Homo sapiens: one gene and its partner. The protein of the gene in region 2 purifies or fractionates together with the protein of the main gene of each other region. This does not show direct contact. Each region holds a gene or a part of one and is shown on either strand. Other genes may lie near its edges.

Region 1 (3,806 bases), on a different chromosome or scaffold from region 2:
CGGAGGCAGAGGGGAGGAGCACGCAGCCCTCGCAGCCACCAGCTCTGGGACAGGCACTGCCGGGCACCAATTTATCTCCTCGTGGCTGATGGATATGATGCTTCCAAACACATTATCTGCATTTTCCAGATGAGGCAACAGGCTTAGAGAGGAGAGGGCACTCGCCCCAGCACGGGGTGGGACTGAATCCACTGTATCTGACTCCAGAGCTCATGCTCCTCTGCTGTCCCCTGAAGCTGCCCACCACTTCCACCCAGACAGGCCAGCCTCAGCTGGGGTCCCAGGGCTCCGCTCAGACCCCCTGAGCACCTGCCTCTGCCAGCTCTGGCATGCTCTTGCCCCACTGTGAGAGGGGGTCCCATGGAACTCTCAGAGGCGGCCAGACCCAGCCATGGTGAAGGTTAGGGCCAAAAACCCAGCTCAGGGTATCAGAAGACTGGGAGAAGGTGAGGGCCAAAAACTCCAGCGTTCCTGGGTGAGGGGGGAAGCACTGGGCGGAGGAGGCCCAGCAGCCTGGAGCTGAGCCACCATGTCACATGGAGGACTACAGACAGACTCAGGGACAGTCAGAGTCATTACACCTGGTCACACATGGCCAGGTGAGAGCCCAGGTCGCTCAGGAACTGCAGCGACAGTGACAGAGTTAGGCAGGATTCAAGCAAACGCCTCCTTTCCATGAGCCCCTCGCTGCACTGAGCACACCACTAGACAGCACGTTTAACGAGCACGACAGGGAGGGTGAAGAGATGGACTCGGGCCAGACTCCGTGGGTTCAAATCCTGCCTCTCCTGCTTAAGCACTGAGAGGCTTTAGGCAAACTACTTAGCCTCTCTGTGCCTCAGTCTCCTCACCTGCAAAGTGGAGGTGACGATACCTACTCACAGGTTTGCTCTAGGATTAAATGAGAAGTCACCCATGAAACACGTGGTGCCTGGCCTGGTAGGCTCTGCCCCACCACACCCCCTCCCCAGGCCCGGGCCCCACCCCCGAGTTCCGACTGTCAGGAGAGCTCCAGGAAAGGCACTCACCCAGTGGGGACGCGCTGGGTGCGCGCGGGGCAGGGCGCTTCTTTGTCTTGGGGCTGCTGGTAGGGGTGATGCCGTACCAGGGGTGCAGGGACTTGGGTGTGGACTCCGGGTGGCCCAGGGCAGGGCTGGTGGCCAGGCTGGGTGCAGCTGGAGCCTCTTCCTCCTTGTCCTCCTCCTCCTCCTCAAAGGGGTTATAGGGTTTGGACTCCAGGCTGGCCGTTGGGCTCGGCTGGGCCACCTCCTCGGTGCCTCCATTCTCCACCTGCCTGCTGTCCTGGCTTGGTGGCCCCGGGCTGCTGCTTGGGGGAAGTGGGGCTGGCTTCTTCTTTGGTTCTGCCTGCACCAGCGTGATCCATGGGGGGTCCTTCCTGGGGGCTGGTGTCCTGGAGGAGGGGGGAAGCAGCAGAAACCATTAGCAGAGGCAAGGGTCAGCTTCCTTCTCTCTCTAGACAGTTTTGACTCTACTTCAAAGGGGGTGGATGAGAAACGGCTGTTTCCCTTCTCCCACCCCCATCCCCATGGGGACAGTCTGAAATGGAATGTTACAGTCACAGCCTTTGAGGCCCAGAGAATGTGAACCTTCAAGTCACAGAGCTGCTGTTAACCCAGCCCAGGAAAGGATCGACCAGGGGCTCTGCCACCTACAATCCATGTACCCTGGGAAAGTCACCTGCCCTCCCTCTGTATTAGTCTCCCTTTCCACTCAATGGGGACCTTAATAATCCTTGCCTCACAGGGTTGGTGTAAGGATGCAGTGAGCTATGGAGTGCAGCACTGGGCGGGGCACTGGGGCACCTGCTCAGTGCCAGGGACTCAGTAAACGTTAACAACTGGCACAGCCATGGCCCACCTGGCTCCCTACAGACCGACCACATGGGGGAAGCATGGCCCTCAAATAACAGCTGAAGTAGATGTCCTCCACGTGAAGCAGGGTCCCGTGCTGCAGGACCTGAGGGACTGGTACTACAGCTGAGCTTTTCCAGGTCTTTCTATACTCTGCTGCTAAGCCTCAAATCAACTCTATAATCAAGCCTCGGCCTCCCATGTTACAGGGCAAAGGAGCCTGGAGAGGCAACGGGTACCAGAGGTGGCTGCCTGCACCGGGCACTGCCCACAGGAGCAGGGACCTGGGGAGGGGGCCAGGCACTGGCCGCAGGAATCCCGGGGTGAGCCTCAGGAGAAGGGGTGTGGGCCCAGCTCTCCTTCCCCTCCTGAGCCCCGCCCTGCCCATCCACAGGAAGCCTCTCTCCCTACCCGGCCCCAGAGTACCCTGATTCCCACCACCAGGACCTCCAAAGCAGGAAAGCCCCTCAGGGATCGACATACCCCTCGGACGGCTTCGGTGTCCCCCTCGGCTTGGGGACAGGCAGTTCGTGCAGTCTCCCTAGATGGGAAAGGAGAGTGAGCCAGGCCTTCATGGGCAGCAGGAGGTGGGCACCCAGGGAGCCAGCCACAGCACCTGCCTCCCCAGGAGCGCCCCGCCTTCCTCCTGGCACCCTCGCACCTCCCCAGGCCAGCCCATGGAGATTAGATAAGCACCCAGGTGCCTGAGAACAGTCAGGGGTCAAGGCCAGGCCACCTGAGACCCCGTTTGCATTTCATTTGAGAAGAAACCCAAATCCCCTCAGACACCCCCCGCCAGTGTGGGCAGAAAACATCATCTCAAGTCAGCCTGGGAGCCACCTCCTCCTGGAAGTCCTGGACTCCCAAGTGTCCTCTGTGAATCCCACAGCAGCCCCTGCTCCCCTCCTTCCAACTTAGCAAGACTTCCACAATCCACTGAAACCCTTGCATCTGTGCCTGTCTCCACCTCAACACTGGGAGCACCCTGAAGGCACAGATAGGCCTGAACAGTAATCTGTGTCCCCAGCGGTCAGCTCAGATCCAGCCTCCACAAGAGCTGAACAAATAGAATGTTCTGGTGCAAGTCGCAGGGTGACCCTGGGAGTCTCTCTCCCCGTGGCCACCAATGCCTTCCCTAATGGAATGATAAGGGCTGCCCAGCAGCCTTATACAAGGAGTCTCAATCCTACAAGCTCACGGAAACCCAGGGAGGTCATCTGGGAGCATTCTACAATGTGGGGTTGGGGGAGAATGCACCCACAGAATGGGCCAGGGGTCTCCACTGCAGCTCACACTGGCTCCGGGGCCCACCTGACCCCTCTGCTCTCCCCCAAGCCCCTGAGCTCTCCCCTTCTAGACATAGACAAGCATAGAGGCTGGGCATGGAGGTCACCTGCAGTGTGCCTGTGGATGGGCCAGGACACACAGGAAGGACACCAATGTGCAGAGTCCCAGAGAGCTCGGGGACACACGGGCACATGCAGAGTGGCACTTACTACACACCCTGAAACTAAAGCCCACAAGAACAGATGCAAAAGAGCGCATGCAGAGGGAGGCAGTGTAAGGGCGGGGCCTGGGTCTGTATTGTTTGCACCGTCCCAGCATGGAGAACAGAGCACGGCAGAGGCTGCAGGAACTCGGCATTTGGGGCAGGAATTAATATCCTCAGAAACAGGCCAGGCATGGTGGCTCAGGCCTTAATCCCAGCACTTTGTGAGGCCAAGGCGGGCAGATCACCTGAAGTCAGGAGTTCGAGACCAGCCTGGCCAACATGGTGAAAACCCATCTCTACCCAAAAATACAAAAATTAGCCAGACATAGTGGTGTGCACCTGTAGTCCCAGCTACTTGGAAGGCTGAGGCAGGAGAATCGCTTGAACCTGGAAGGCAGAGATTGCAGTGAGCCGAGATTGTGCCATTGCACTCCACCTGGATG
Region 2 (4,511 bases):
TTGATCTCAAGAATTCAACTACTCAACCTGGCAGAAAGTATTCCAAATTATCAAAAGAAACCATGAAAATATGAAGCTTCAGTGTTCATAACGTTAGATCAAAAAACTAAAACCAAGCAAAACTATTTAGAAATCTCAGCTCCCTATTTCCTATCAAAATGTTAAAGAACTTTAGATATCTTCTTTAAACGTACTAAAGATACAAAAGTAAATTCCTTTTGACTTCAGAGGGCTGAAATGAAGAATTCAGTAACTGCGGGCAAAAATTATGGAGGGGAAAGAATTACTTGAGAAAATATTTCGTGAGACAAATACCTTTTTTTAAAAAAAAAGATGTATTAAAATCACTTACTCCCTTCTACCAGACAAACAATCCTCTCCTAGAACTCACTGCTTACAATTCAGCCAAGTATGACTGCCAAGAGTTTCTAAACCTGTGTTAGGATTTTTAAAAGTGGAAAGCTTCTCCACCAGTGTATTACAACAAAAAGTATATTTTTTAGAGTTAAAGATCAACTATTAAATACACTCCTACTGATAAACTAAATGTAAGTGATTAAAAAAAACCCAAAACTCAACTTGTAACTTAGCACAAAGTTTGCTATATAAATTGCTTGCAGTTCTAAGAGTAGGTATTTATTTGGTCCCCCAAATTGGGGCTTAAGTGGCTGAAAGAAAAAAGTTTTATAAACAGCTTTTCTAACCTTAGTTTACATTTGGTAAAACAGACCATTTATCACAATCAAGTGAACATAATGCCAAATGTTAAGATTCCAAATTTTACAGGTAAAATTTGTAAAAATTACAATAACCCAGTAATGGACTGCCACATGAGACTGTCACTGATTTTAAACATTTTTACATATATCTTAAGAATACAATGTCATGTAAGTCATGTTTAAACTTGGGATGTATGTATTTGAACTATGTAATCTTGGTTGCTTTTCTGGTAATTCTTTATCTCACAGTGGTCTGATTATAGCCAGGGCTGCTTCTTCCCATTTTACCATTAGTCAGTACATCTTAATTTTGCTTTCACCAAAACATGGACATCATAAGCCACCTCTTGCTTCCAGTTTTCTGCTTTTTACTGTAGATAACAATGACAGTGAGTTCCACCAAATGCATGTATGTGCACAGCTTTGTCATTCTTTTCCCAGCCCCCTTCTTTTCTATGAGAAAAATACGAGGAACTTAGGTTTATATAAAAATGTCGATTTTTCTTTTGCATACATAACTAATGGATTTTCAAGACAAGACAATTTATTCTGATAACTATCATCCTAGAAATGTCAAGAGAACTTCCCAAATCCAAAAATAAGAAGAAAATCTGATATTAACTGGAGAGGAAATTTCCACTCAAATCATAAATAAAATGTCATCAATTAAGCTGAACATCAATAAAACTCAGTCAAAAATCAAGCCTCAATACAGAACCCACACATAACCCACATGTAATCAAAATATCACTTATATTTGCTAGCGGAGTTCACAGATGAATTCTGTATGTGCGCCAGATTTATCTTATTTTGTAATGCTGGGGTTAATATTTATTGGTATAAATCAGGGCCCACACTAAGTGTCCTGGGGAGAGGCAATCCAAAGAACGCTTAGTAGCATGATAAAACCGGTCCAAAACGAAAAAAAAGAAAAAAAGCCAAGTCCTAACACAACAGAGCGAATAAGCGACAAATAGATCACAGAAAGCAAAACGAAAACGGTCCTCTCCGGAGTAGCCTGAATAAAAGATCTTCACTCATAACGTTTAATAGTATCCTACCTCACTTCATTCACTTCCCAACTTCCTTTTACTTTTCAAGGGCCACCACGGGGCTTCCCTTTTTCTGGAAGTGTATATTGAAAGGATCTGTACAGGAAAGAGGGAAGGAACGGACAATTCTCAAGAAGGCTGAGAAACAGGTGGGTTAGCAGGAGGAGCATAATCTAGATACTTAAGGGGCAGCTTTAAGATGACAGATGTGGTGGAAGGAAAGACTGCAAATCGGAAGCAGCTCTAGTGTGGCAGATACACTGTGGGCTGATTGCAAGCACCAGAGGGGGGCAAAGGCTAACTCCAGAGTGGTAGCAGTGGAGCAAAAAAACAAGCAGCAGGACGAGTGGGCAATGAGCAGTGGGATTAATGAGCAGCAGCAGCCAACACGGATCAGAGTGGAAGTGATGGCTTTGGTCTTGGGAGACGGGGGCCAGAGGGAAAGGACGTCAGACAGGGAACAGGGGATTGGGGAAACAAGGAGGGCTGAGACCTAAGAATCCTGCCCCGGTGAAAATGCAGGGGGAAAAGCTGGAGACCAAAAGCCGCCTCGGCTCCCCAATTAAAGAAATTCTCGAAGGAGAGTCGCTGCTTGCCGCCGCGCTGCCTTCTGACCCGCTCCCTTTTCCTTATGGTAACTGCTGTGGCGTAAAGGGGAGAGGGAGGAAGAGGAGGAGGAGGAAGAAGACCAAGGAGGAGGAGGGTGAAGATGAGGCGGGGGGTGGGGAGAAAGGGGGGTGCGGCCTGTACAGTCCCAGCGAAGCCTCCGCTCTCTCGTAGCCGGTCAGCCCCGGGTTTCCCCTAAGCCCAGCCCCGCATAGACTCACCCGCCTGCCTTGCCTCGCTTTTCCCTCAGCCGACTCCACGGGCTGCCGCGTCCTCACAAGAAACCACCGAACGAGCGTCGGGGAAAAAACTCTTCAGAACCGGGCCTGATTGCTTCAGCGAGTCCGACCTTTACGGCTGAGAGAGAGACTCTCAGCTTTCGGTGGGTTCCACAGCCAGACGGGCCACCATCTTACATTAGGGTAAGACTCCTCCGGCCTCCCGTGCGCAGGCGCACGCTGATCCGGCCAGGAGGGGCGGGGGAGGGGCGGGAGGAGCGGCGGGCGGCTGAGTGGGAGGTTGCGGTGGCCGCTCCCGCAGCACCCTGGGAGTTGAAGTCCTCGGAGGGTAACCTCCCAGGGGCACGCCGGGAGTTGAAGTCCTCTCTCAGAGGGCGGAGGGGATCGCCCACCTCACGTGGCTGCTGGACTGATGCCTTTCTTCGTGTTTTGCTTCCTTCTCTGCACGCGTGTGCTGCTTCAATGTCATTTGGTCGGCGGTTTTCACTAGTGATTCCGTGTCCTCGGTGTTTGCGGAAATGTGCTACCCCAAGACTGGGGCGAGGCTAAACAGTTTTTCGGGGAGCCCGGAATGTTTATTCTCTGCCCCGCCCACCAGGGATATCTAAAGGGGGCGGGGTGGAGGTGGAGGCAGGTTGTGGGTACGAAGAGCGCGGGATTTGATCCAGGGTGAGAATTTGATACAGACTTGGCGTCTGTTTGCGAACAAGGAGGAAACAGGCGCCTGTTTAATTCATTTCCCTGTCCTTGCGCATTTGGGGCCACCACCCTTGATCCCTTCTTCACTGTAAAATCACCAGTGAAGACATACACTAAATTGTTCTGTGCAGATTACCCAAGAGAACGGAACACCCGTGCACTTACAATAACGTGCTTCTGTTGGTGTGAATTTGAGAATTTGCGGACCTCGGTGCAAATTAGTGTTAGTTCGGTGTCCAGCCAGCACAGCTGTGTGCAAGTTTACAAACTACACACATCGGCACATCCCCAAGAACAATAAATGCAGCCACAATCCCTACGAGCACTGAGGAATCATCAGTCACAAAAGTCAGTCAATGTACTGGTCGCCCCGTTTGCATCCCAGAACTCTGGTGGAAGTGGCGCTCGAAGCAGTAACTTTTGCTTATTGCATGTATTCTTCACCCACTCATACAGCAAATACTCAATGAGCTCCTCCTAGCTGCCGGGTACTCTTCTATATATTGAGAATACAATGGTGAGCAAAATAGAAAAAATTCCCTGTCCCTATTCTAGTGATGTGTTGGGATGAGGAAGAGGAGAGAAGAGGCATTATTTTAAAAATACGTGATTAAAATGCATAGTATGTCATAACCGATTTTAAAAACTTAAAGCAGGGAAGGGGAGTAGGGAAAGAGGTTGCAGTTTTAAATTTACGAACTTAATTTCATAATAAGCCCTCAATTCATTGTTTTTTCTTTTTTTTTTTTTTTGAGACGGAGTCTAGCTCTGTCACCCAGGCTGGAGTGCAGTGGCGCGATCTCGGCTCACTGCGACCTCCGCCTGCCGGATTCAAGTGATTCTCCTGCCTCAGCCTCCCGAGTAGCTGGGATTACAGGCACGTGCCACCACGCCAGGCTAATTTTTATATTTTTAGTAGAGACAGGGTTTCACCATGTTGGTCAGCCTGGTCTCGAACTCCTGACCTCAGGTAATCTGCCTGCCTCGGCCTCCCAAAGTACTGGGATTACAGACGTGAGCCAGGGCACCCGGCCTCATTCTTTTGGTACATTGGTTTTCTGTGTTTCAGTTTCCTCACTATAAACCTAGAGACAACAGTTACTTGGGTAAAAATTAAAATATGTAGTGAAGTCACATTTTACCCAAAGTTTGAAATTATAGAATCATGAAATGATTACCTAGCAAGGAAACTTGGG

The links.
Region 1: the proteins of CNOT4 (region 2) and MICALL1 fractionate together in Homo sapiens (co-fractionation; one large-scale study listed by BioGRID). This does not show direct contact.

What each region holds. Positions count from the first base shown.
Region 1 is NC_000022.11:37,923,266-37,927,071, reverse strand, and holds part of MICALL1 (MICAL-like protein 1), read right to left. Parts: intron 2,413-3,806; coding exon 2,355-2,412; intron 1,412-2,354; coding exon 1,029-1,411; intron 892-1,028; coding exon of another isoform or gene 875-891; exon of another isoform or gene 133-874; intron 117-132; coding exon of another isoform or gene 1-116. UniProt on the Homo sapiens protein: Lipid-binding protein with higher affinity for phosphatidic acid, a lipid enriched in recycling endosome membranes. On endosome membranes, acts as a downstream effector of Rab proteins recruiting cytosolic proteins to regulate membrane tubulation.
Region 2 is NC_000007.14:135,507,291-135,511,801, forward strand, and holds the start of CNOT4 (CCR4-NOT transcription complex subunit 4), read right to left. Parts: upstream 2,813-4,511; 5' UTR 2,599-2,812; intron 1,868-2,598; exon of another isoform or gene 1,781-1,867; intron 1-1,780. UniProt on the Homo sapiens protein: Has E3 ubiquitin ligase activity, promoting ubiquitination and degradation of target proteins. Involved in activation of the JAK/STAT pathway. Catalyzes ubiquitination of methylated RBM15.